Homo sapiens: one gene and its partners. Changing the gene in region 1 together with any one later gene gives a genetic interaction. Each region holds a gene or a part of one and is shown in the gene's direction. Other genes may lie near its edges. The genes, in order: PTP4A3, REPS1, PPFIA3, RAB21, HAVCR2, ZNF507 and GARIN1B.

Region 1 (3,500 bases):
TATCCTTGTCTCCACCTTTACCTCCTTCTGGGGGTCCCACCCCACCACCGGTTTTTTTTTTTTTTTTTGAGACGGAGTTTTGCTCTTGTTGCCCAGGCTAGAGGGCAATGGAGCGATCTCGGCTCACTGCAACCTCTGCCTCCAGGGTTCAAGCGATTCTCCTGCCTCAGCCTCCCGAGTAGCTGGGATTACAGGCATGCACTTCCATGCCTGGCTCATTTTTTATTTTTTTATTTTTAGTAGAGATGGGGTTTCTCCATGTTGGTCAGGCTGGTCTTGAACTCCTGACCTCAGGTGATCCGCCCGCCTTGGCCTCCCAAAATGCTGGGATTACAGGAGTGAGCCACTGCGCCTGACACCCACCGCCCATTTTAACCTTCCCAGAACCATGCAGTGGACAGAGCCTGAGGTGTGGCGGCTGCTCTGAGCCCATGAGCACTGGCTGCCACCCAGGGTGTGGAGGGCAGGCAGGGAGGAGCCCACTGTCCCAGGTAGCCACCCTCTGAGTCCAGGGGCCCAGGCCTCAAGCCCTACCTGCACCTGGGCTGAAGCTCCAAGGGCCCAGCCTGCCTGGTGGGCAGCTGGGAAGGGGGTGCTGGGGCTGGGGCAGGGGCACAGGTGAGAGGGGGTGGGTTGGGGAATGGAGGGCTCTGCTGGGCGAGGGGCCCTGAAGTGCCTTTCCTTGGGTAGCAGGCAGTAGTGACAGGGCCGGGCTTGGGTTGAGTCTAGGGGGCTGGAGAGTCTGCTAACAGCTGGGTCACAGCCAGGGCCAGCAGTGCGGGGACCCCTCAGCAGCAGTGCCCAAATACAGCTTGGGTCACTTGTGTCACCCCTCATCGTGCTCATGGGGTAACAAAGAGGCCGGCACCTTGCTCAAGGCCTCCCAGCCCTTCCGTAGAGAGGGAAGGGGGCTGCGTGCTCCTGGAACCCCTTTGCCTGGGAGCTTTGGGGTCATGAGACCCAGAAAGGGAGAGAGGCAGGCGTGGAGGTGCCTTGGGTTGCTGTGGCCCCCCCTGCCGCCTCCCCTCTTCAGGGCCCTGTCATGGTGTGAACCCACTCCTGGCCACCTGTGCTGTCACCACCTTGGCATGTGTGCCTGATGGCTGGCCCATTGGCGTGTTCTGTCCCCGCCTCCCTGAGCTCCTGGAGGGGCAGAGCTGGCCTGTTTATCCCCGAGCCTGGCTGAGACCTGTGTGAGCAGTGGAGACACAGTGGCGGGGGGACACTGGTGGACAGGGGGCTGCTGACAGGCAGGAGACTTTCTGCAGAAAGCAAGAGGCGATTAGGGTGGCCCACGGCCGCGTGTGGGGCCAGGCCCCTCACCTCCCTGTGCTGGCAGCACTGACCGAGTGCCTGGGCCCCATTCCCTGAGGATGGGCCACCCAGAGACACCTGGGCTCAGATGTTCACAGTGGCTGAGAATCGGAAGAGGAGAGGGCAGCTGTCCTGGGGTGGAGTTTCCGCAGATCACAGCAGGTGGGCAGGGGCCAGGCTCAGGCTTCTTAGGAACTCGGCCTCTGTCCCCACAGAGGGATCTGTCATCTGTGTGCTGGGGTTCATCATGTCCTCGGGGGTGTGTGTGTCCCTGAAATCCCTGTCCCCTCTGTCCTCCGTCATGCCCTGCTGGCTGTGTGGTGGCTACCCTGTCGCCTCTGGGCCCTGGGTCAGTCCTGGCAGGAGCCGTGCTTCCTTGTGCTCCCATATAAGGAAATAGACCCAAAAGGGTCATTCTCTCAGCATGGTCAGGAGGAGGGCTCTGGGAGAGGTGTCGCCTGTGACTGTGGGCTCATGACAGGCATGAACCCCTTGTGGGAGGCGGGGCCCCCTGTGATCCCTTTCTATTCATTTCCTTCGTCTTTCCCCACAGATGCTGTGTGCTGTGGACCCACCTGGGGTTCATGGAGTGGGCCACGGGGCCCAGCCCTAAGCACTGCTGCGCCCAGGGTCGCCGCGCCTCCTGCTGAGGGGTCCCCGTGCCACTGGCTCTCACCATTGCCCTCGCCTGCCGATGGCCTCTGCTGCCCAGCCTGGGGCCAGCTCTACCGCCTGAGCCCCCTGCCCCACTCCAGGACTCACCGTACCCCGATGGGGTAACGTGACACAGGCCCCACACGTCAGAGGCCGCTGTCCCCACGGCCACTGCCCGTGACCCCTGGCCCAAGGCAGCTGGAGTTGGTTCAGTTCAAGTTCATTCTTCCTCTGGCCCTTGGGGGCTTGGGGCCCACCTCTGAGTGAAGGGGGCTGTCTGCCCATCCACCAATGTGGAGAGGGCGCCCCCGGTGTGGGGTCCAGCTCTGGACACTGCTTGGCGGCCGGGTTCACTTTGAGTTTTTAAGTTTTCTTTGCTGAGCTTTTTTGGTTGTTCTTTTTATTTTTTGCCTCTTTATGACTATCCAGCTCTGAGAGACGGGAGTTTGGAGTTGCCCGCTTTACTTTGGTTGGGTTGGGGGGGGCGGCGGGCTGTTTTGTTCCTTTTCTTTTTTAAGAGTTGGGTTTTCTTTTTTAATTATCCAAACAGTGGGCAGCTTCCTCCCCCACACCCAAGTATTTGCACAATATTTGTGCGGGGTATGGGGGTGGGTTTTTAAATCTCGTTTCTCTTGGACAAGCACAGGGATCTCGTTCTCCTCATTTTTTGGGGGTGTGTGGGGACTTCTCAGGTCGTGTCCCCAGCCTTCTCTGCAGTCCCTTCTGCCCTGCCGGGCCCGTCGGGAGGCGCCATGGCTCGGATGAACCGCCCGGCCCCGGTGGAGGTGAGCTACAAACACATGCGCTTCCTCATCACCCACAACCCCACCAACGCCACGCTCAGCACCTTCATTGAGGTGAGTGGAGACGGAGGTGTGGCAGGCAGGTGGCCCAGGTGTCTGGGAAGCCCGGCTGAGCTGCCCTCAGGCCTCGCAAGAGGGGTCCCCAGCCCCGGCTGGCCAGACAGGGCTCACAGCCTTGGAACAAAGCCCAGTCGCCTGTTACAGGATCCTGGAGGAGGGAGATGGGGGTGCCCCGGGGGTTGGGGTTGAGGGTGTTGGGGGATCAACGGGGTCCCCTGGGAGGCCTGCAGGGGGCTGGCGTGTGATAGGAGGGACTCCACGCTGTGTGGATAGAGGCAGGGGGTGAGGCAGGGGGATACATGGACCAGGCTGTGCGTGCTCAGCCGTGGCCTGGGCTGGGGCCCTCCCGAGCCCTTTGCTGTCCCAGATGTTGCTGGGCTCTGGATGAGGCCTCAGGTTAGACCAGGCTGGACTAGGGGCTTCAGGGCCCAGATCTCTGTGTGAGGAGGGACTGAGCAAGGGTCAGCGCTGACCACAGGAGGGAGGGACCACTGTGCCCTGGAGAGGCAGCAGAGATACCTGCCGCTGGCAACCCTGGCAGATGGGACGAGATGCGTTTACAGAAGCTTTCTTGGGAGTGGAGTCTGGAGCGACCTGCATGGCCTCCTGGAGGAGCCTGGCCTCTGCAGAACGCCCTGCTGTTTGCAGGCCTGGGGCCGTTTGCAGCGT
Region 2 (3,500 bases), on another chromosome or scaffold:
AACAAATCACAGAATGTCTGATATAGCTATGGGATTGGGTTTTCATGATTTCTGACTCAAATGAGAGTATCTTTGTGTAGGAGCGGCTAATCTATTCCAGCCACACCCCTTTAAAAGTAGCACAAAGTCTTGTGGTTAGTTGCTCCACTATCTTGACACTGGAACAGGATTATTTGACATTCTTTGAGGAATACAAAGAGGAGATATATACAAGAGGAAACTGATGAAAGGGTCATAAATCCATGGGTGCTTAGTTCTTCAAGGTCGTGAGAATTTGAAATGGGTGATAAGACTTGTCATTTCTGATGTTTTCCCTTATATAGGTTTTATTTTCTGTAGCCTTTCCTATTATAGATGCATCTTCACTCATCTTTTCCCTCTGTGTAAGAAATTTGTCTAATGGAAGTTAAACTGTATACCAGATTTCATTGAGATTTGATAAATTCTAAGACTTAGGCTTTTTAAAATTAAGAATACTACATCTCTTCTGCATTTTGTTTCAAGAATTAGCCAGGTGTTGAATTTGGGGTCTGTCTCATTAAATAATGAAGACAGAATTTATTAGTCTGTCTCTTTTGGGCTGTTGATTCCGTTGAGATTCTGCTGCACGCACTGGACATCTGCTTAGAAAACATAGTTCCACAGAATTTTGCACTTAATTTGTGATTTCCAGCCTTCCCCTAATTGAGTCAAGCTCATCTTATGGACTTCTACATTAATTCAGTTTTAAGGAAGAGCAGGCTGACCTGTGAAATGCTAAACACTTCTGTCTTAAATCAGTTTTAAATACTTTCAACAAAGACTTCTTTGTGGCTGTTCTTTGTATTGGGGGTATACATGCAGTGGTGAAGGATCAAGACATCTTCTCTGACTTGTGCCAATGTCGAAAAGAAAAAGAACTGGCCAGGCGTGGTGGCCTGCACCTGTAGTCCCAGCTACTTGAGAGGCAGAGGCAGGAGGATCACTTGAGCCTGGGAAGTTGAGGCTGCAATGAGACATAGTAAACATAGTAGTGTCATTGCACTCCAGCCTGGGTGACAGAGCAAGTCTCCGTTCCCCCCCCCCCCCGCCCCACCCACAAAAAAAAAAGGAAAAAAGAACTGTGTACAATAATAGAGAATCATTGGGTGGTAGAATCAGAGGAGGTAGTGGGGACCTACTTAGGTGTAAGGGAAGGCCCCTTAGAGGATGCCTGGATGGGGGGTCAGGGGAGGGAGAATAAGGTGTTTCATATAGAGAGAACTGGGAAGGGCCTGAGGCTGTGAAGAGCACAGTGTGTTTAAGGAACTGAAACTGTGGACAAGAGGGGAGAATGGCAGGGACTGCATAAGGCAGGCCCTTGTACTCAGTGATAAGGAATTTGGATTTTAGTGGAAATATACTAAAAGTTTTTATTCGGGGGTGTAGCATCATCTGAATTATATTTTAAAAGATCATGCTGACTGCTGTATGAGCAAAAAGAATACTGGGGGCAAGTGGAAGCAGATACGCTAGTGGATATGCAACAGTCCAGGCAGCAGACAGCAATGGCTTAGATTAGCGAGGTGGCAGTAGGATAGAGAGCAGTGGACATCTGTGAGAATTTTTTAGGTGGTAGAAATACGAAGGCATAAATAGGGTTGGATATGGAACATAAGGGAGGGGAAAGAACTCAAGGATGTTGCTGGAAGTTGCCACTATTGGATGGTTGGAAGAGGAGTGGATTTTGGGGGGGATTGTTTCGTGGGAGAGGTAAGGGTGAATTCAGCAGTTCCCCTTTTGTCTATCTTAGTTCTCAGAAGCCTGTAAGATTGTCAAGTAGGCCTGTTAGAGAGATCTATACATCTTGAGGAATTCAGAGATACTTGGCTTAGAGATGTCAGTTTGAAGATTGTCACTATGTTAGTGATACTTAAGGTAATGAAATAATTGAAGAAAAGATTATAAAGAAGAGAGAAAGATTGACTAGAACTGGAATCCTGAGGAATGCTGAACATTTCTAAGTTGGGTAAACTGGAAGGCTTCTTGGAAGGACGCTAGGAAGCACACAATCAGAGTGGTACAAATTGGGAATGTGTAATATATAGTATTATCATGTCGTGGATGCCAAATAATGCAAGTATTTCAAGGGGGTGGGTAGTCAGCTGTATTGAATTTCACTGAGAGGCTGAGAACATGTGGGCAGGAATGTGGCCATTGGATTTGGCAACCTGGAAGTTATTAGTAACTTCAGTGAGCCAGTTTCATGGACTAGTGTAGATGGATGCCAGATTTGAGTGATTTGAGGGATAAATGATGGCTGAGGAACTAGAGACAGGGTGTATAGATAGCTTTTAAAGAAGTTTACCTATGAAAGGGAATAGATACAGGGTAGAAGCTAGAGATGTATGAGGATATAAAGGAAATCTTTTTGTTTGTTTCTTTTTGAGTGTGAGAAATTCTGCAGAATGATTTTAGTTGTTAGGATTGCTAAGATAAGGGAGATGAGAAGTCCTTGAGAAAGCAGGAGTGGTCAGGATCCTGACTGCACAGAGTCCTTTGATAGGAAGGGGATACTTCTTCAGTTTTTTTTTTTTGTTTTTTTTTTTTTTTTTGTGATGGATTCTCGCTCTGTCGCCCAGGCTGGAGTGCAATGGCCTGGTCTTGGCTCACTGCAACCTCCGCCTCCCGGGTTGAAGCGATTCTCCTGCCTCAGCCATCAGAGTTGCTGGGATTACAGGTGCCTACCACCACGCCTGGCTGATTTTTGTCTTCTTAGTAGAGACAGGGTTTCACCATGTTGGCCAGGCTGGTCTCGAACTGCTGATCTCGTGATCTGCCTGCCTTGGCCTCCCAAAGTGCTGGGATTACAGGCATGAGCCACCGTGCCCGGCCACTTCCTCAGTTTTAACAGTGGGGAAGAAAGAACAACATGGTTACAGACGCAAGTAGGAATATAGATTTAGTGGGTGGAATATAGATTTAGTGGGAGGATGTTCTGGCCTAATGGCTTTTATTTGTTTTCTACAAACTGAGGCAGGATTAACAGTGTAGTAGTAACATAAAATCTTAATATGAAAGTAAGAAAAAAATACATTCACATTAGCTTCAAAGAGGCCTAACATACTTGGGAATAAACTTAAGAAAAGAGTCACCAAGATTTTTGTATTTAAAACTACAAAACAGGGCTGGGCACAGTGACTTATGCCTGTAATCCTAGCACTTTGTGAGGTTGAGGCGGGCAGATCACTTGAGCCCGGGAGTTTGAGACCAGTCTGGGCAACATAGGGAGACCCCTGCCTGTAAAAAAAAAAGATAAAATAAATTAGCTGGGTATAGTGGTGTGCACCTGTGGTCCCAGCTACTTGGGAGGCTGAGGCAGGAGGATGGTTTAAGCCTGGGAGGCAGAGGTCAGGGAGGCAGAGGTCAGAGAGACCCGAGATTGCGCCAATGGACTCCAGCCTGGGCAACAGAGCCAGACCCTGTCTCAAAAAAAAAAAAAGAAAAGGAAAAGAAACAAATAATTGGGCTTTATTAAATAT
Region 3 (3,500 bases), on another chromosome or scaffold:
AGAGAATCTATTGGGGCAGGACTAGGGCAGACAAGCTATGGGGTTGGACTATGGAGAGAAACCAGTGGGGTTCCTAAGTGGGCACGCATTGCGCAGGGCTACGGGGAGAATCTCCCAGTGAGAGTGAGATTAAGGGTAGAACCAGGGGCTGGGGCTCAGGCTGGGACTAAGGAGGAAGTGATTGAATGGGGAAAAGCGGGGCTAAAGCGGAAACTTTGTCCAGGAGGCTAAGGGGAAGAGTAAGGGTAGACGCCCTCCGTGGTGGCAGCTAAGGAGGGATATAAGGAGGGAGGGAGCCTAAGGGTAAACCGTGGGGTAGGCATGGCCCCAGCACGACCGGAGGCATCTCATATGGGGCCGCCTATCCCCTTAGAGGGCCAATGCCAGTGAGAACTAGAGCTGGGGGTTCAGGGAGCCCCTGTGCTCTGATTCCCCTTTCACACTTCCAGACTCTGAACCTTCGAGAACAGCTGTCTAGGCGGCGGTCAGGGCTGGAAGAGCCGGGCAAGGATGGGGATGGGCAGGTGAGACATGGAAGTCCCCTCTCCGTGAGCTCCATTCAACTCCCTGACTTTGTGATAGTGTTTGTAACGTTTGGTATCATCCTCACTGGCCCTAAGACGGCTGCACCTGTAAGAGTGTCACAGAGCTTGGACCTCTGATTCAGGTCACCTAGCGAACTTCTGTGACCTCCTTCACTGACCCCCGTGGACTCTGACCAGCATGATCCTTATTGATCTTTGATCTACTTTCAGCTGATTGACTTTCTCCTTGGATTTCCTCTGTGTCTCCGGAGACACTCTGGGATCTTGTCCCCTCCTTCCCTCACTCCAGACTCTTGCCAATGGCCTGGGTCCTGGCGGGGATTCCAACCGGCGCACAGCAGAGCTGGAGGAGGCCCTGGAGCGGCAGCGCGCCGAGGTGTGCCAGCTGCGGGAGCGCCTGGCGGTGCTGTGCCGTCAGATGAGCCAGCTGGAGGAGGAGTTGGGCACCGCGCACCGTGAGCTGGGCAAGGCAGAGGAAGCCAACTCCAAGCTGCAGCGCGACCTCAAGGAGGTGAGGCCCCCAGGGAGGCGGGCTGCCCTGGGTCCCTCGCCTTTCCGTAGAGCTCTCCCTCGCGCATTGCTCATGAATGGCGGAACCTCGATTCAGTCCACAGGCTGGGTGACTCCTCTTTGAGATTCAGTTTTCCCACCTGTGAAAGGAAATGTATGATTCTCATCAGAGGGTGAGCCTGTGGCGCAGAGTAGGCGCTCCATAACTGCTCGTAATTACTTTGTTACCTAACTTTGGGTTCTTCTCTGGTGCCTCTAAATGGATTTTTTTTTTCTTTTGTGAGGCAGAGTCTGGCTGTGTCGCCCAGGCTGGAGTGCAGTGGCGTGATCTTGGCTTACTGCCACCTCTGCCTCCCGGGTTCAAGAGATTCTCCTGCCTCAGCCTCCCAAGTAGCTAGAACTACAGGCACCTGCCACCATGCACCGCTAATTTTTTTTTTTTTTTTTGTATTTTTAGTAGAGATGGGGTTTCACTATGTTGGCCAGGCTAGTCTTGAACTCTTGATCCGCCCACCTCGGCCTCCCAAAGTGTTGGGATTACAGTAGTGAGCCACCGCACCCAGCCTCTTTTTTTTTTTTTTTTTTTTTGAGATGGAGTCTAGCTGTGTCGCCCAGGCTGGAGTGCAGTGTCGGGATCTTGGCTCACTGCAACCTCTGCCTCCCAGGTTCAAGCGATTCTCCTGCCTCAGCCTCCCTAGTAGCTGGGACTACAGGTGTGCACCACCACACCTGGCTAATTTTTTTTTTTTTTTTTTTTTGTATCTTCAGTAGAAATGGGGTTTCACTATATTGGCCAGGCTGGTCTCGAACTCCTGACCTCAAGTGATCAGCTCGCCTCGGCCCAAAGTGCTGGGATTACAGGTGTGAGCCACTGCGTCCAGCCTCTAAATGGAATGTTTTGTGGGTATTTCACCCCTTTCTGGCTTAGGCCGCTTTATCCTAATCCCAGTGACCCCAGGGAGCTGCTGGGAAATGTGGACCTGGATTCTTGAAGGCAGTGGATGAGAAAGAAGAGTGAGCACTAGGACTAGCCTGGGCAACATAGCGAGACCCCGTCACTACTTAAAAAAAAAATTAGCCGGGCGTGGTGGTGGGTGCCTTTAGTCCCAGCCACTAGAGAGGCTGAGGCATGCCAGGTGCGGTGGTTCACGCCTGTAATCCCAGCACTTTGGGAGGCCGAGGCGGGCGGATCACGAGGTCAGGAGATCAAGACCATCCTGGCTAACTCAGTGAAACCCCGTCTCCACTAAAAATACAAAAAATTAGCCGGGCGTGATGTCGGGCGCCCGTAGTCCCAGCTACTCGGGAGGCTGAGGCAGGAGAATGGCGTGAACCCGGGAGGCAGAGCTTGCAGTGAGCCGAGATAGTGCCACTGCACTCCAGCCCGGGCAACAGAGCGAGACTCCGTCTCAAAAAAAAAAAAAAAAAAAAAGTTGAGGCATAAGAATCACTTGAGCTTGGGAGGTGGAAGTTGCAGTAAGCCGAGATCCGTACCACTGCACTCCAGCCAGAGTGCTGGTTGCTCATGCCTGTAATCCCAGCACTTTGGGAGACCAAGGCAGGCACATCACCTGAGGTCAGGAGTTCAAGACTAGCCTGGCCAACATCGTGAAACCCCCGTCTCTACTGAAAATACAAAAATTAGCCAGGCATGGCAGCGGGTGCCTGTAATCCCAGCTACTTGAGAGGTTGAGGCAGGAGAATCGTTTGAACCCAGGAGGTGGAGGTTGCAGTGAGCCGAGATCGCACCACTGCACTCTAGCCTGGGTGACGGAGCAAGACTCTCTCTCTCAAAAAAAAAAAAAAAAAAAAAAAAAAAAAAGAAAGAGAGAGAGAGAACCTTCATCTGGGATTTTAAGCCTGGATAGCCGCAGGGGCTATTGGGAAATGTAGCCCCACCACGTGGGCTACCAGATGAGGGTCCATCTCCCATAAGAAGTTGAAGCACTTCTTTTGGGGTTCTAGGCCTCTGGTACCCTGGTAGCTCTTGAGAGGTGTTGCCTTCTAGGTAGAAGGGATCCTTATTTCCCATGAGACCCCAGGACACTTGCTGTTTGATTCTAAGTCTGCTCTATGCCAGAAATTAGTGAGAAATCCAAGGCCTGGGTTTTGAGGAGAGGGCTGGAGTGGAGACTTCACATCCCACAGGCCTCAGATCCTCTGAACCTGGAGGATCTGAGCCTGCAGTGTCCTAGAAGCTCATGGGAGGTGTAGCATCACCATTTTAACTCGCAGGTAGGTGGCAGGGACTTAAGATGGGCTAGTCCTGGGAGCTCTTAGCGGGTGTGACACCACCATTCTGACTCCCATGTCAGGGCACTTTGTTTCCCAGGGAACAAGGGGGTTCCCCGTCCTCTCCCCCAGGGGCTCGCAGTCCACGGGGCCCTTTGCTACCTCCGCAGGCGCTGGCGCAGCGGGAAGATATGGAGGAGCGGATTACAACAC
Region 4 (3,500 bases), on another chromosome or scaffold:
TGTTCACATTCTGTGTTTGATCAGATATGTACCTGCCAAACTTTTGGAGTGAGATAATTAGAATGACAGTAGTTGAAGCTGACAGTGAATTTGAGGTAAAGCTGGAAAGAATGTTTTTGAATTTTGCAAATAATACATTTTCAAGCCAGATTAAAATTGAATAACTTACTTTCTAGCTTCAAGGGGGTAATTAAGTGATCCTCTAACCCAAATTGCTTTTCCAAATTTTGTGGTAGCAGTGAATAAACTGATGCCTCCTGCTTATTTAGACAGCAGCCATTTTTGTTTGGTTTGGTTTGGTTTTGCGGTGATTTTTTTTAACCTAGAAAAAATACAATTTAAAAAGCAATCATGTTGTTTTCTTTGCCTTTGACAGATGTGGCCTTGTCACCACACAGTAAGCCAGAACACAATCCATTCCTGAGTCATAGTAGGATAGTTTGTGTAATTCTAAATGCACTCTCCAGTTTAAGAGTGTGGGTCCCTTTTTTTCTATCTGAAATTGAAGATACAGGTCAGAAAGATGGTTTAATGAATATGAATTTTCTAAACATCTTTTCAGTGTCTTTTAAGGATATTTTTGATATTACAATATAATAAAGTTAAATCATCTAGTCCTCCTGGCCCTTCTGGTTAGAAAATAGAGCGAAATCATCCGTTTAAACACACACACACAAACTATCCCATTAGTTGGTTATACACAAGTTACTTTCATTCTTACTAGTTCACAAAAGGTTAGTAAATTTAGTGATTTAATGAGTTCTTCAAAACATAAAAGTCCTGTAAAGGAAAAGCTAGAGGATGTGAGAGGAGTAATTCATCCCCATCAAAAGATTTTAGCCAAAAGTAGTGGCATAAGAAATTTATTTATGCGAAAGACATAATTTTGGGTGAACTTTCTTGAAGATGGTCAGAAAGGGCATTGTTAAAGGAAGGAGATGGTAGATTTTGGGTTCTGGGTTCTAGGTTCTAGGCTAATAATTTACTACTTTGGTATGTTGCCTTGAGGCTGACATTTGCTGCTCTGCTAAGACTAAAGCTGGCCCTTTCCAATCAAAAGTGTTAAAAGCTGGCTGGGAGCCATGGCTCATGCCTGTAATCCAGCACTTTGGGAGGCTGAGGTGGGTGGATGGATCCCTTAAACCCAGGAATTCAAGACCAGTGTAGACAACATGGCGAAACCCCATCTCTATCCAAAAATATACAAAAATTAGCCAGGTGTGGTGGTGTGTGCCTGTAGTCTCAGCTACTCAGGAGGCTGAGATGGGAGGATTGCTTGAGCCTGGGAGTTAGAGGATGCAATGAGCTGAGGTCGCACCACTGCACTCCAGCCTGGACGACAGAGTGAGGCCCTGTCTCAAAAAAAGAAAAAAGAAAAAAAAAAGTTAAAAGTTGTGGCATGGTGGCTCACGCCTGTAATCCCAGCACTTTTGGAGGCTAAGGCAGGTGGACCACCTGAGGTCAGGAGTTCGAGACCAGCCTGGCCAACATGGTGAAACCCTGTCTCTACTAAAAACAAAACAAAACAAAACCATATATATATTATATATATATATATATATATATTTTTTTTTTTTTTTTTTTTTTTTTTTTTGAGACGGAGTCTCGCTCTGTCCCAGGCCAGAGTGCAGTGGCGCTATCTCGGCTCACTGCAAGCTCCGGCTCCCGAGTTCACACCATTCTCCTGCCTCAGCCTCCCGAGTAGCTGGGACTACAGGCGCCCGCCACCACGCCTGGCTAATTTTTTGTATTTTTTTGGTAGAGATGGGGTTTCACCGTGTTAGCCAGGATGGTCTCTATCTCCTGACCTTGTTATCCGCCCGCCTCGGCCTCCCAAAGTGCTGGGATTACAAGCGTGAGCCACCGAGCCCAGCTATATTTATAAATTTATATATATTTCATATATATATTATATATATATAAAATTAACCGGGCATGGTAGTGAGCCCCTGTAATCCCAGCTACTTGGGAGGCTGAGGCAGGAGAATTGCTTGAACCCAGGAGACGGAGGTTGCAGTGAGCAGACCTGGTGCCACTGGACTCCAGCCTCGGTGACAGAGTGAGACTCTGTCTCAAAAAAAAAGTTAAAAGTTGTTAACTAGATGTCGAATTATTTTCATAGTAATCACCATGTGTAAGCAATTCTCATCTGTGGAATGTTTGACAGGGATAAGATTATTGAAAATTGGGGGGAATTTTCTTAAATATGGAACTAAGAGCTAAAGAGTTCAATGATGATTAAGACCACTAGTCTGGCAAGTGACTTTTATTTGTCCTTTTCTATTGATAATGAATTCTAGGAATATGGATGGATTTCATTAGAGAAATAAAAATGAGCAAGATTTGTGATTCAGAATATTAAAAGTTAAGAATCCATGAATAGCCCCTTAAAAATATTGTCAAAGCATCATGGTATTTGTAGTGGTGCTTAAAAAAGAAGCAGCAGCAGCTGTTCTAAGCCAAGCACTGCTTGAAAACAAAACAAAACAGAACAAAACCTTATATTTAATAAAATGGAGAAATTTGGGAATGTCCCTAGCGTAATAATGCCTTCTACTGACATTTAAAGTCAGCTTAAACATCATTAGGGAAGACTATGACTGTTTCTATGACCTCTAGTCACAAATTTAACTAATTTAAGGTTAACTAATACCTCTTTCAGAGTTGGGCAAAAGAAGAAAAAAAAAGCCTTTATTTGTGATCAGTAAATTATAAATTACACAGAAGCTTCCAGCTACCTGGTATTTGCATGAAGAATTCTAAATTTTTTATATGCCATAATTTTTAGTAATGCTGTCCTTGAATTCACTTACATCTCTGCTCTGGTTTTTTGAAGCTCATTAGGATGATACCTGTCATCTCTTGGAAACACTGGAACTAGAGAACTGGAGGTGTTCACCCCCATTTTTTGCTACATTGTTGAAAACTGAGTAGAATTTTGTGTCCAAAAATCCTTAGTCTGTGATGGAATTTTTTAAAGTATATGTGAAGTTTTTTACTTCTTCAGTTTTTCAAGATAATTTTGCTGTTTTTGCTTTTTATTTATTTGCAACTAGAAATTGCATGTGCCAGTTACTTAATTTAATACATCTAATGGGAGATTCAAAGCAAACCATTAAAACTACCATATAAACTCAAATGAAATTTTATGACATTCTAATGTACATACTCGCCAAGAAATGCTACAAGGAGCCTCTCTGCAAATGCCTGATGGGGCACTCTGAGAATTAAACAGGAAATGGACAGGAAAAGAGGCAAAGCATAGAATAGCCTCTGTGGTATACACACAGACAATGTAAAATCCAAGAAATATAAGGTCCAAGGAGGAATTGGTTATTGAAGTAGAGAACCTCATCATGAGATTTGAGAATAGCTTTAGAGTTACTCTTGGGATAGTGTCTCATGGCCCTGTGAGGGAACTCTACAAATTTTATCCATTTTGCTGGGCAGTTTTAAGAGCTACTTTTTGTCTGTACTTTCCTTAATTTTCATATTATTTC
Region 5 (3,500 bases), on another chromosome or scaffold:
GATGGTCCAATTCACAAATCTTGAAGCTGATTACACAAGCGATTTCTAGCTGTTTTCTGCTTAAATCCTGTTTGTGTTTCCATAGCAAATATCCACATTGGCCAATGAGTTACGGGACTCTAGATTGGCCAATGACTTACGGGACTCTGGAGCAACCATCAGAATAGGCATCTACATCGGAGCAGGGATCTGTGCTGGGCTGGCTCTGGCTCTTATCTTCGGCGCTTTAATTTTCAAATGTAAGTGTTTTTGTTTCTCTCTCCCTCTGATAACAAATTCTTCAGTGAGAACCAGTAAAAACCTAGATAGAAATGCAAATTCATGTTTATACCCAAAGATGATTAGACTAAATACCCTTTTGTCCATCCAAATCCTAACAATAATGGCTAATTTTTATTTAATATTTATTGTGTGTCAGGCAGCCACTGCGTTAAATGTTTTACATACATTTTATCATCATTACTGTCTTATGAGATAAGGAATAGTACCATCCCCATTTTACAGTGAAGGGAAGTCAAGCTTAGAGTAAGCTGCCTTCCCGAGGTTTCAACATCAGTACCTGGCAGAACCGGAAATCAAATCCAGGCAGGCTGATTCCAGTAAACTAATTTCTTTAATTCATGAATATGTCTAGGTTTGTTACGAAACACAACAACAAAAAACACTTCCTTCTGTGCACTTTTCTGTTATTGGTTTCTCAGGCATACCTCTCTGGCAGTAGACTGCAAGTCCCTTTAACACTGGGTCGTGACTGGGGTTAGAGAATGTTTTCCTCCATCATGGTACTTAGCACATAGCTTTTTCTAAGTTACTTATCCCTTTTTTTTTTTTAAACTAGCAAACAAACAAAAACAAAAAAACAGGCCCGGCGCAGTGGCTCACGCCTGTAATCCCAGCACTTTGGGAGGCTGAGGGGGGTGGATCATTTGAGGTCAGGAGTTCGAGACCAGCTTGGCCAACATGGTGAGACCCCATCTCTACTAAAAATACAAAATTAGCCGGGTGTGGTGGCGCATGCCTGTAATCCCAGCTACTCAGGAGGCTGAGGCAGAGGAATCACTCAAACCTGGTAGGTGGAGGTTACAGTGAGCTCAGATCATGCCACTGCACTCCAGCCTGGGTGACAGAGTGAGACTGTCTTAAAAAAAAAAGTAATAAAATATAAATAAATAAGCAAATAAATAAATAAATAAATACAATGGCCAGGTGCAGTGGCTCATGCCTGTATTTTCAACACTTTCGGAAGCTGAGGTGAGAGGATCAGTTGAGCCCAGGAGTTTGAGACCAAGATCAGCCTGGGCAGCAAAGCAGGATCCTGCCTCTACAACGTAATAATAATAATAATGAGCTGGGCATGGTGGCACACACCTGTAGTCCCATCTACTCAGGAGGCTGAGGTGGGAGGATCACTTGAGCTCAGGAGGCTGCAGTGAGCGGTGATTGCATCATTGCACTCCACCCTGGGCAACAGAATAAGACAGTCTCCAAAAAAAAAAAAAAAAAGAAGTGTGTTGAAGTTGATGAATTTTGATGGAGAATTACAGTAGGAAGCCATCATCACAATCAAGATCTAAATACTTCCAGTACCCCCAAAACCTCGCACACTTTTGTTTTTTTGGAGATGGACGCTGGAGTGCAGTGGCACGATCTCAGCTCACTGTAACCTCTGCCTCCCGGGTTCAAGTGTTTCTCCTGACTCAGCTTCCAGAGTAGCTGGGACTACAGGCATGTACCACCACGCCTGGCTAATTTTTATATTTTTAGTAGAGACAGGGTTTCACCATGTTGGGCAAGATGTTCTTGATCTCCTGACCTTGTGATCCGTCCACCTCGACCTCCCAATGTTTTGGGATTACAGGCGTGAGCCACTGTGCCTGGCCACTCACACACTTTTATAATTGTGTCTATTTTATTTTCTTTTAGGGCAGAAACCAAGTCCTTATGCCCCAGAGCGTAATATGACATAGCAGCCTTTCTTACTAATACACAAACAGGGACTGTGTGTGTAGAGTGAGCAATCACCTCAGATTAGCTCAAGACTAAAGGGTGTTCCTAAGATATATGGGACTTCTAGGGCTAAAACTGGAACAGTCCAAGAAAAACATGAGTTGGTCCCCCCACTAACTGTGGACTGAAGCTGCCAAGTGCTTTACGTGCATTAAATTCTCGTAACTACCCTATGAGATAGGTACTAATATGTTTCTAATGGAGAATCAGCATGCTAAAAGGTTAGGTCACTTGCCTGCATTTACACAGTTAATTGATAGATACTGGATTTGAAACCAGGACTGTCCTGCTCCTCATCTTTATGGTTTCTGCGATTATGGTTAAATGGATTATTCAGAAAAAGAAACTACCCCACCCACACTTACCTGGGTTTATTCAGAGATAGCCATGGAATTTTTGAATTGATCACATGAATATATATATATGTATATATATGTATACACATATATATATATATTTATTATTATTGGGACAGAGTCTTACTCTGTCACCTGGGAGCTGGACTACAGTGGTGTGATCTTGGCTCACTTCAACCTCTGCCTCCTGGGTTCAAGCAATTCTTGTGCCTCAGCCTCCCAAGTAGCTGAGATTACAGGCATATGCCACCACACCTGGCTAGTTTTTTTTTTTTTTTTTTTTTTTTTTTTTTTTTTTTTTTTGGTAGAGACAGGGTTTTGCCATGTTGCCCAGAAAATTGGTCTCAATCTCCTGAGCTCAGGTGATCCTCCTACTTCAGCCTCCCAAAGTGCTGGGATTACAGGCGTGATGAATATATACATATTTAAAAATAGAGGCTGAGCACGGTGGCTTACGCCTGTAATCCTAGCACTTTGGGAGGCCGAGGTGAGTGGATAACCTGAGGCTGGGAGTTTGAGACCAGCCTGACCAACGTGGAGAAACCTCATCTCTACTAAAAATACAAAATTAGCCGGGCATGGGGGCACATGCCTATAATTCCAGCTACTCGGGAAGCTGAGGTGGGAGAATCACTTGAGCCCAGGAGGCGGAGGTTGCAGTGAGCTGAGATCGTGCCATTGCACTCCAGCCTGGGCAACAAGAGTGAAACTCCATCTCAAAAAATAAATAAAATAAAATAAAATAAAAATAGAAATGAGATCTTGCTATGTTGCTCAAGCTGGTCTCAAACTCCTGGGCTTAAATAATCCTCCCACCTCAGCCTCCCAAAATGTTGGGATTATAGGCATGAGTCATTGCACTTAGCCTCACTTGAGTATTTCCAAAACAGACTAGGGATTGTTAAGGAGCACTGATAACACTCACTACTTTTTTGACTTCTGCCATGGCTCAAAGTAAAACTTTGAGCTTTACTATTATATATATTAGAGACCACTTTATATATATATGTGTGTGTGTATATATATATATATATATATATATAATATGACCATAATTTATACATATTAGCACTTATTCTAGTTTGTATAAAGAGTGATGGGATCTAGAGGAAATCTGATGCTTTGTACACACACATA
Region 6 (3,500 bases), on another chromosome or scaffold:
CAAGGAAAGATTTGAGAGAGTTGGTGGAAAGGGTTATAGAACTTTTCTGGTTTGGGATACAACTTTTGTTTATTACTTATTTATTGGTAACAATTTAATATATTTAATGTTGTTATGTCTAAACATTACAAACAAGAAATCTCCTGTTTTGCTAATGCCTGTCGTCTTCTTTCCTCCTGGTGAACTTTCCTATTCAGCCATATCGATCTTTTCACTCACCCCCAGATAGCATGCTTATTCTTACTTCTAAAAATATAGTCATGTCATGGCTGCTTTTCTGGTCACTGCTACCCTTGTGTCAACTTGTATCAGCAGTATTCCAAGGAAGCAAATGGCACGTTGAAATGAGGATAATTCAAGGAAGGTATATTTACAAAGATATTAGTAATAAAGGTGTTGGACTTCAATAAGCAAACCACAGCATAATGCAGTTATCTGGAGCTAGCAGCATTAGGAGAGGGAGAGGCATCAGAATCAGAAGAAGGGTCTTGGAGAGCAGCCTACCTGGAAAGAAATAGCCTTCTATTGAGGAACACAGCCAATCCAAGGTGACCTAGAGGTAGAGAACCAGGACGATGAATATTCTGATCTCACTCTGCTACCTCCCTCTGATCTGTCATGGTTCTTCATTGGCTGACCTCAACCAGAAGGCAGAGGACAGGGGAGCCTAGTGATGTAATCCCTCTGACAGAGAGCAGAATGGAAAGGAGGATACAGTGAGCCTAGAGGGCAAATGGATGATGTCTGGCATGCTGCCCATCCTTTGGGAACCAGTGGACATCTTACCTCTCCATGAAGCTTTTGCTTACCTTGCTAGCCCAAAAGAGCTCTTCAGTATCTTTCAGGATTTAGTCATTGACTGTTGCCTTTTATTTTACCTTGTGTACCATTGCGTTGTTTAAATGCTGTTACTTTTTAACTTCCAAATGTTTGCCTTATCCACTCAACTCAGTTTTAAACTGCAAGTATTAAGAATTTAAAATTTTTCCTGATACTTTGCCTTGCGCCTTGCACATAACAATTTGTTTGTTACACACACACACATATTTGTATTTCTGCATTAGTGGTCTAAATAAAATTTCTGTGATTTTAAGGAATCAAGAAAGTTGAAGGATTGGCCTTAAGGTAACTTCCCCTCTGTGTATACTTTATTATGATCTGTTTAGCCTTTTTATTATGAAAAATGTTAAACATTTACATAAGTAGAAAGAACAGTGAATTCCTAGGTACTCATCATGCAACTTCAATTACAGAATTAGTCATTCTTTCTTTATTCTCATCCTATCCACCCCACCACTGCAGTATCACCAAGGTAATTGTTTTAAAGCTGTGCTTACACTGATCTCTTGGAGGCCAAGGAGAGTATGCAGATTGTCATAGTTTATGTTGTCATCACTATTGAGCCACTGACATTGTATGTATACTCCTTATTTCATCTCTTTTGTTCAGATTTGCTTCACTTGACACACAATCTCATATATATGTATTTCTGCATTAGTGGTCTAAGTAACATTTTTGTGAAAATTGAAAGAGTTGGCCTTACAGTAACTTCCCCTCTGTGTATACTTTATTATCAGCTGTTTATCTAACCTTTTTTTTTTTTTTTTAACAGAGACTTGTTTTTATGAGATTAACCTGTGCATTGATTTTGCATGGGGACCCAAACTGGTTTTTCAGGTGTTTCCTGACGTATTTCATGTTGTCATATCTGTTTTATAGCTGCCATTACTGTACTTATCCCCAAATGTATGCAGCCTTTAAAATGAGATACTTACATAAATGTTCAGGGAAAATTGGAGCATCTGCTGCAAATTTCCATTAGCTCTTAATGCCTGAGCCGACACAGCTTTAAAAATCTGAATGTTTTGTCAGATTCTTTTGTATTAGTCTTTTTCTTGAGTTAAGATGAACTCCTCCTTCTCTTCATTTCACTTTCTTTTTAAGGTACACACTGAAATATCCACAGGGAGCAATTTGCACTGGTCTGTGTCACTTCTCTTATTAAGTAGAAGAAAGATAACATGAGTCACCTTTGTAACCCTACGGGTGTGCAAAGTCTCTTGAGCAAACATTCACTTGTTAACCTCCAGATGATCAGTCAGCCTACATGGGTGTTACATTTCATGGGGAAGGAGACCTTAGATCTACAGCAGAGAGCCGTATCGTGTTCAGGAGGATTCCTATTATTAAACTTATTATTTAATCAATTTGCATTTAACCATTGAACTGACAGACATAAGGCCTTAAGTTAATCACCTTAAAGGGAAATCAGTAGTCACATGAAGAGCCACAGCTCCTCTTGGCCTAAAAATGTGGAATTCTAAGACAATAAAGTGACTTAGGAAGTCACAAAAGGGTTTTTCTAAGGAAACAAATTGTTCCCCCATTGGTCTCCTCTTTAATGACTTACAGCTGAGCGTAGAGATCTAAAAAGACTTTTGTTCCTTCTACCTGAGAAAGATGAAACAGAACTAGTCTTTTGAGAGATTGTTTAAGGGAGAGTGGCTGAAGGACCACGGGCCTTTGGGAGCCAGGGTAGCTGTCATTGTTGGAATGGCCATGGAATGCATGTGAGGGCAGTTAGAGACAGCTAGTAGCCAAGAGAAAAAAAGCTGATGCCATAGGGCAGAGTATTATTAGGAAGAAGGGAAGAAATAGTACTGAAGAAGCCAAGAGTAAAGTGTTTGCATTTTTGCCTGATGTGGACCTAGATCTAGAAAGCTGGCTTGCCAGAAGGAGTAGAAAATCAGGAAGAAAAGCCATAGCTGCTGCCCAGAGTTGTGGGCGACCTGGCACTGAAGCTGGTCAGCTGTGTGTGTGTGTGTGTGTGTGTGTGTGTGTGTGTGTGTGTGTGTGTGTGTGGCGTGGGGGGGCGGGGCCTGTTTTTGTGTTTGTGTATATGTGTGTGTGTGTGGCGTGGGGGCGGGCGGGGCCTGGCAGGACATTAGGTATCATCTTGGCAGGGGCTGAAGGGCCCTTATATGTTGATTCAACCATGCGGGGAAGAACAGCCATGATTCACCACCTAAAATAAGAATTCAGAGCCTGGGACTGAAGTTTAAGAATAGTGTGGTCTTTGGTCTATAGCTAGTGCCACTAAAAATTTTGTTGGCATTTATTGAATGTTGTGAGTAAGATTCCAGAATGCACCTAAAATGTGGAAAAACAAAACTTGTTGCTGGAAAAAAGCCTAAACTTAAAAATGTGATCCAAGTCAACAAATTAATCTCACTTTAAGCCAAAGGAAATGTTTGAAATGAAAGTACTGCCAGGAAATAGAAAGAGTATTCTAGACTTAGGCAGAAAGATTTATGGGTATTTTATGTTTAGTGACTTCCTCAGCCATAATGCATTATTAGAACGAACAAATAACCTCTTCTAAGGACTCTGTTCATATCTGGAACTGAAACACAACTGGGATATCAATTTTTTCCTTCTCTGATGTCCCTTACCCTTTCAGGGAAAAAAAAAAAAACCATATATGTGGATATGAGTAATAG
Region 7 (4,123 bases), on another chromosome or scaffold:
ATAACAGGTGCTGGAGCAGGGGTGTGATCTGAATGACCAGAGGGAAGGACTGATGGAATTGGATGGTGAGAGCCTCCAGGCCCTTTAGGCTTCTCCCTGACTTTATAATGAAATACAAAAGTCAGCCTCCATGCTTGTCCTTTGTGTGTAATGATTGTCAAACTCTGTCTATATGTGTTACATTTGACCTTGATGGTTAATTCATTATGTAATAAGTTCAGAATTTGGGACAGACACAGTGGCTCATGCCTGTAATCCCAGCACTTTGGGAGGTCGAGGTGGGCGGATCATCTGAGGTCAGGAGTTCGAGACCAGCCTGACCAACATGGAGAAACCCTGTCTCTACTAAAAATACAAAAAATTAGCCAGGCGTGATGGCACATGCCTGTAATCCCAGCTACTCGGGAGGCTGAGGCAGGAGAATCGCTTGAACTCGGGAGGCAGAGGTTGTGGTGAGCCGAGATCGCGCACATTGTACTCCAGCCTGAGCAACAAGAGCGAGACTCCATCTCAAAAAAAAAAAAAATTTAGAATTTGGTCCAAATTAGAAAACAGTTTCTCCCAGGAATGGCCTTGAATAGTGGTCAGCCTGCTTGGTTCTTTCTTCCTGACCTAGCAGCCCATGATTTGGGCTCTTTCCTCCTCTGGTTCAGGGGTGAGGGATGCTGTCACTCTCCAAGAGGGGGAACAGCTTGGGACCTAGCAGAGCTGCTCATCGGGGTTCTATTCCTCCCAGCCAGCGCCCTGACAAAGCCAGCCTCTGGATAAGAAACTAATTACTTCTCCTGCTTCTTCAGTTTGACCTCCTAAGGGAAGTAAGTCCTGCAGAAGTAACCAGCCTGCCGCGGCAGAATGCAGAGCAGGCACCAACTGCCCTGCAACTGCTTCCATAACCTGCAGATCCACCAGGGTGTCGGGGGCCCACATGCTGCAAAGCTTAGGAAGATGGGGTTTTCAATGGACATGCAGCTTTTAAAGTTGTGTGAGATAGGTTGCATTCAGAGTAAGGAAGGGTTGAAAGGCAGGAAGGGCATTTTCCTCTTAGCAGTGGAAGGATCTTCCTGACAGCCCTCCTTGCTTGCTTTCTGCCTGGCTCACTGCTTTCTCAGCAAGTTCCGGGAGGACTATGTCCTGGGGTTCCGAAAAGGGCTGGGGAATGTCCAGGCACGGATAAGGCACACAAGCTCTCTGGAGGAAAAGGGAGGCTCCTTTGCACTTCCCCTTCCTGCAGGTCTGTCCTGGTTTTTCATGATGTCATCCATTCATCATTGTGAGCTGACTGGTGGTCCCAGGGCTTGGCCAGCTGCCCAAGGCCAGGAGGGGAGACAGAGATCCCAGGACAAATGTGCAGCAGGCCCCTGAGCATGTGTAGAAATGTTGTCATCATTTCCACATAGAAAGACTTGGAGGAAATCAAAGAAGACAGTAAAAGTCACAAGATCCTATCCAACCTTCCCTTCCCTGAATGCCTGGGAAGAATTCAGGGGCCTCTTGCCTGTGGATGGAGAGCCGAACCCTGGAGCGGGCCTAGGTGTGGAGGAGGGACTGCTCTGCCGGGTGGTTCATTCTCCAGAATTCAACCTGTTTCTTGACTCCGTGGTGTTTGAAAGCAACTTCATCCAGGTATTCTTGGGTGGCGCAGAATAGCACTCTTTGATTCTTCGAAACCTGTTCCCAAGATATGACTGAGAGAGTCCATCCCTGAAACTGGGGCAGAGTGAGAATTGAGGCAAGGAGAAGCTAGTGGACCTGGAATGCAAGGCCACCCTCACTGACCTGGGCTTTGCTGAGCCCCAGACGGGGCTTCTCCTACAGACAGCTGTCACCCAGGGAGAAAGGTCAGGGGTCCTCTGCTCTGAGTGGAGAATTTGGTATCTAATCCCCCAGTTTACTTCAGCCCCCAGGCTGTCACCTGAAGTAGATGAACAAAGAGGCAGTAAAAAGAGACGCTTCTTGAGAACAATAATGCGGATTGGCGAAAGAACAGCACCTGGGGTCCCAGAGACAGCTGGGCTCAGATTCCAGTCCTCTGCCTTCTCCTTGGGAGGTGACTGTGCAAGTAACCTGTGCAGCCTGAATCTGGCCCCTTGATTGTAAAAGGGTTGAACTGACCTGAGGATGAAATGCAAATACAGCAAGAAAAGTACCTTGTCTAACAGGCACTCGGTGCACGTTCGTCTCCTTGCCTGGGCTCTCCTCTGGTTGGATGGAAGCGAGAATGAACAGCACTTTGGAGTTAGAGAGGACCTTCCTGTTCAGTGAAGGTGCAGGAGATAATAGGGCACCTCGGGGAAGGACCAAGAGGATACATTTTTCAAAGAAGGCCAGGAAACAGTCCAGGGAGGATTGGCAGAAATGACAGATGGCAGGGAACTCCTGGGTTGTAATTCCTGTGGGCAATTGTTAACAAATGGGTGGTTGAAATATTGTTTAAATACTAGTAGTTGTTTAATCAATATAGTGGCTATCAACAAGAATTGATTTTTGGCCCCAACTGCCAGGGAACATTTGACGATGTCTGGAGACATTTTTTATTGTCACGATTTGGCTGGTAGTGCTACTAGAACTAGTAGGTAGAGGTCAAGGATGCTACTAAGCATTCTTTAGTGTGCAGGGCAGTATCCTACCCTCAACAAAGAATATCCAACCCAAAACATTAATAGTGTCGAGGTTGAGAAACCCTGGGCTGAAACAGACTGCAGCTTTTGCCAAATGCTCAGGTTGTGCCTGGGGGCTGTGTTGCAGGTCAAAAGGGGCAGGAATTGGAGAGACGTCTACAAAGCTTCCAACACCATGGCCCTGGGGGTGACCTCCTCGGTACCCTGCCTGCCCCTCCCCAACATCCTACTCATGGCCAGTGTCAAATGGCACCAGGGGCAGAACCAGACATGGAACAGACCATCCATAGCCCCCAACATCTTCCTGAAGAGGTGAGCAATGCAGATGAGAATGGAGGACAAGAGGGGTGAGGGGTGGATGCAAAGTGGAGGTTGCTTGACTACTAAACTCAAGGAGAAGATAGAGATGTCATCAGCAGTGACATTGATTTTTTTAGACAACAGAGTATCCTAAGACAGGTGTTGCACTGGAAGGACAGAGGCCAAGTGGGACAAAGGGAGATGTCATGTGGACAGGAGTCAGGGGCTAGTCTACCTGCCCACTTTCTTTCTCGCTGCACAGACGCCACTGAATTCATAGGAAATCTCTCAGCATTGGGCCCAAGGGCAAGGAGGCAGTGAGTCTGGCAGATGGAGCACTGGTTGGGGAAAGGAGATTATTTCTAGTTCTTGGTGTACAACTAACTGGACTCAATTTTTAAAATCACAAGTTATTTGCTGCTCCTCAGTTTTCTTTGTCTTTTTCTTTTTCTTTCTTTCTTTTTTTTTTTTTTTGAGACTGAGTCTCAAAAAAGACTATCGCCCAGGCTGGAGTACAATGGTGGGATCTTGGCTCACTGCAACCTCTGCCTCACAGGTTTAAGTGATTCTCCTGCCTCAGCCTCCCGAGTAGCTGGGATTATAGGTGCCTGCCACCACACCTGGATAATTTTTGTATTTTTAATAGAGACAGGGTTTCACCATGTTGGCCAGGCTGGTCTTGAACTCCTGACCTCAGGTGACCCACCCTCCTCAGCCTCCCAAAGTGCTGGGATTACGGGCGTGAGCCACTGTGCCCGGCCAGGTTTTTTTTGTTTTTTTTTTTTAATCAGTAAAATAAATGGGACTAAGTCTCACTTAGAGCTGTAGCATATAGTGACATCATGCTTGTCTGGGACGAAGTAGCCTTTTTAAATTTTGGGGCCTCTTTAAATAATCTGTAGGATATCTCAAGAATCTCTAGAAATTCCCAAAAGTCCAAGAAAACCCTTCATTTCTCCATGCTACCTCAGTGACACACCTCTCCATGATGTTCTTGGTGTACCTCTAGCAAGTACCACCCAGTCCCAGCTGACTAATATTAGATCCAAAGCCAGATCCTTGAACTTTAACTCCCTTGGGAAGACTAACTGTGGCATTAAACTCAATAAATGCACAAGCCAGACAGTGGGGCAAGCTCCTTTGGTGCTTTCAAGAAAGAAATTTTGGCTGGGCGCGGTGGCTCGTGCCTGTAATCCCAGCACTTT

Evidence for each region.
Region 2: changes in PTP4A3 (region 1) and REPS1 together harm fitness less than expected from each alone (positive genetic interaction), as found in Homo sapiens cells (one study listed by BioGRID).
Region 3: changes in PTP4A3 (region 1) and PPFIA3 together harm fitness less than expected from each alone (positive genetic interaction), as found in Homo sapiens cells (one study listed by BioGRID).
Region 4: changes in PTP4A3 (region 1) and RAB21 together harm fitness less than expected from each alone (positive genetic interaction), as found in Homo sapiens cells (one study listed by BioGRID).
Region 5: changes in PTP4A3 (region 1) and HAVCR2 together harm fitness less than expected from each alone (positive genetic interaction), as found in Homo sapiens cells (one study listed by BioGRID).
Region 6: changes in PTP4A3 (region 1) and ZNF507 together harm fitness less than expected from each alone (positive genetic interaction), as found in Homo sapiens cells (one study listed by BioGRID).
Region 7: changes in PTP4A3 (region 1) and GARIN1B together harm fitness less than expected from each alone (positive genetic interaction), as found in Homo sapiens cells (one study listed by BioGRID).

Annotation. Positions count from the first base shown.
Region 1 is NC_000008.11:141,419,521-141,423,020, forward strand, and holds part of PTP4A3 (protein tyrosine phosphatase type IVA 3), read left to right. Parts: exon of another isoform or gene 1-1,867; 5' UTR 1,868-2,720; coding exon 2,721-2,825; intron 2,826-3,500. UniProt on the Homo sapiens protein: Protein tyrosine phosphatase which stimulates progression from G1 into S phase during mitosis. Enhances cell proliferation, cell motility and invasive activity, and promotes cancer metastasis.
Region 2 is NC_000006.12:138,978,254-138,981,753, reverse strand, and holds part of REPS1 (ralBP1-associated Eps domain-containing protein 1), read left to right. Parts: intron 1-3,500. UniProt on the Homo sapiens protein: May coordinate the cellular actions of activated EGF receptors and Ral-GTPases.
Region 3 is NC_000019.10:49,129,544-49,133,043, forward strand, and holds part of PPFIA3 (liprin-alpha-3), read left to right. Parts: intron 1-449; coding exon 450-524; intron 525-834; coding exon 835-1,056; intron 1,057-3,457; coding exon 3,458-3,500. UniProt on the Homo sapiens protein: May regulate the disassembly of focal adhesions. May localize receptor-like tyrosine phosphatases type 2A at specific sites on the plasma membrane, possibly regulating their interaction with the extracellular environment and their association with substrates.
Region 4 is NC_000012.12:71,792,863-71,796,362, forward strand, and holds part of RAB21 (ras-related protein Rab-21), read left to right. Parts: 3' UTR 1-3,500. UniProt on the Homo sapiens protein: The small GTPases Rab are key regulators of intracellular membrane trafficking, from the formation of transport vesicles to their fusion with membranes.
Region 5 is NC_000005.10:157,092,045-157,095,544, reverse strand, and holds part of HAVCR2 (hepatitis A virus cellular receptor 2 precursor), read left to right. Parts: intron 1-85; coding exon 86-239; intron 240-3,500. UniProt on the Homo sapiens protein: Cell surface receptor implicated in modulating innate and adaptive immune responses. Generally accepted to have an inhibiting function.
Region 6 is NC_000019.10:32,348,610-32,352,109, forward strand, and holds part of ZNF507 (zinc finger protein 507), read left to right. Parts: intron 1-504; exon of another isoform or gene 505-744; intron 745-3,500. UniProt on the Homo sapiens protein: May be involved in transcriptional regulation.
Region 7 is NC_000007.14:128,714,068-128,718,190, forward strand, and holds the start of GARIN1B (Golgi-associated RAB2 interactor protein 1B), read left to right. Parts: upstream 1-1,323; 5' UTR 1,324-1,374; coding exon 1,375-1,623; intron 1,624-1,632; exon of another isoform or gene 1,633-2,264; intron 2,265-2,745; coding exon 2,746-2,930; intron 2,931-4,123. UniProt on the Homo sapiens protein: RAB2B effector protein required for accurate acrosome formation and normal male fertility. In complex with RAB2A/RAB2B, seems to suppress excessive vesicle trafficking during acrosome formation.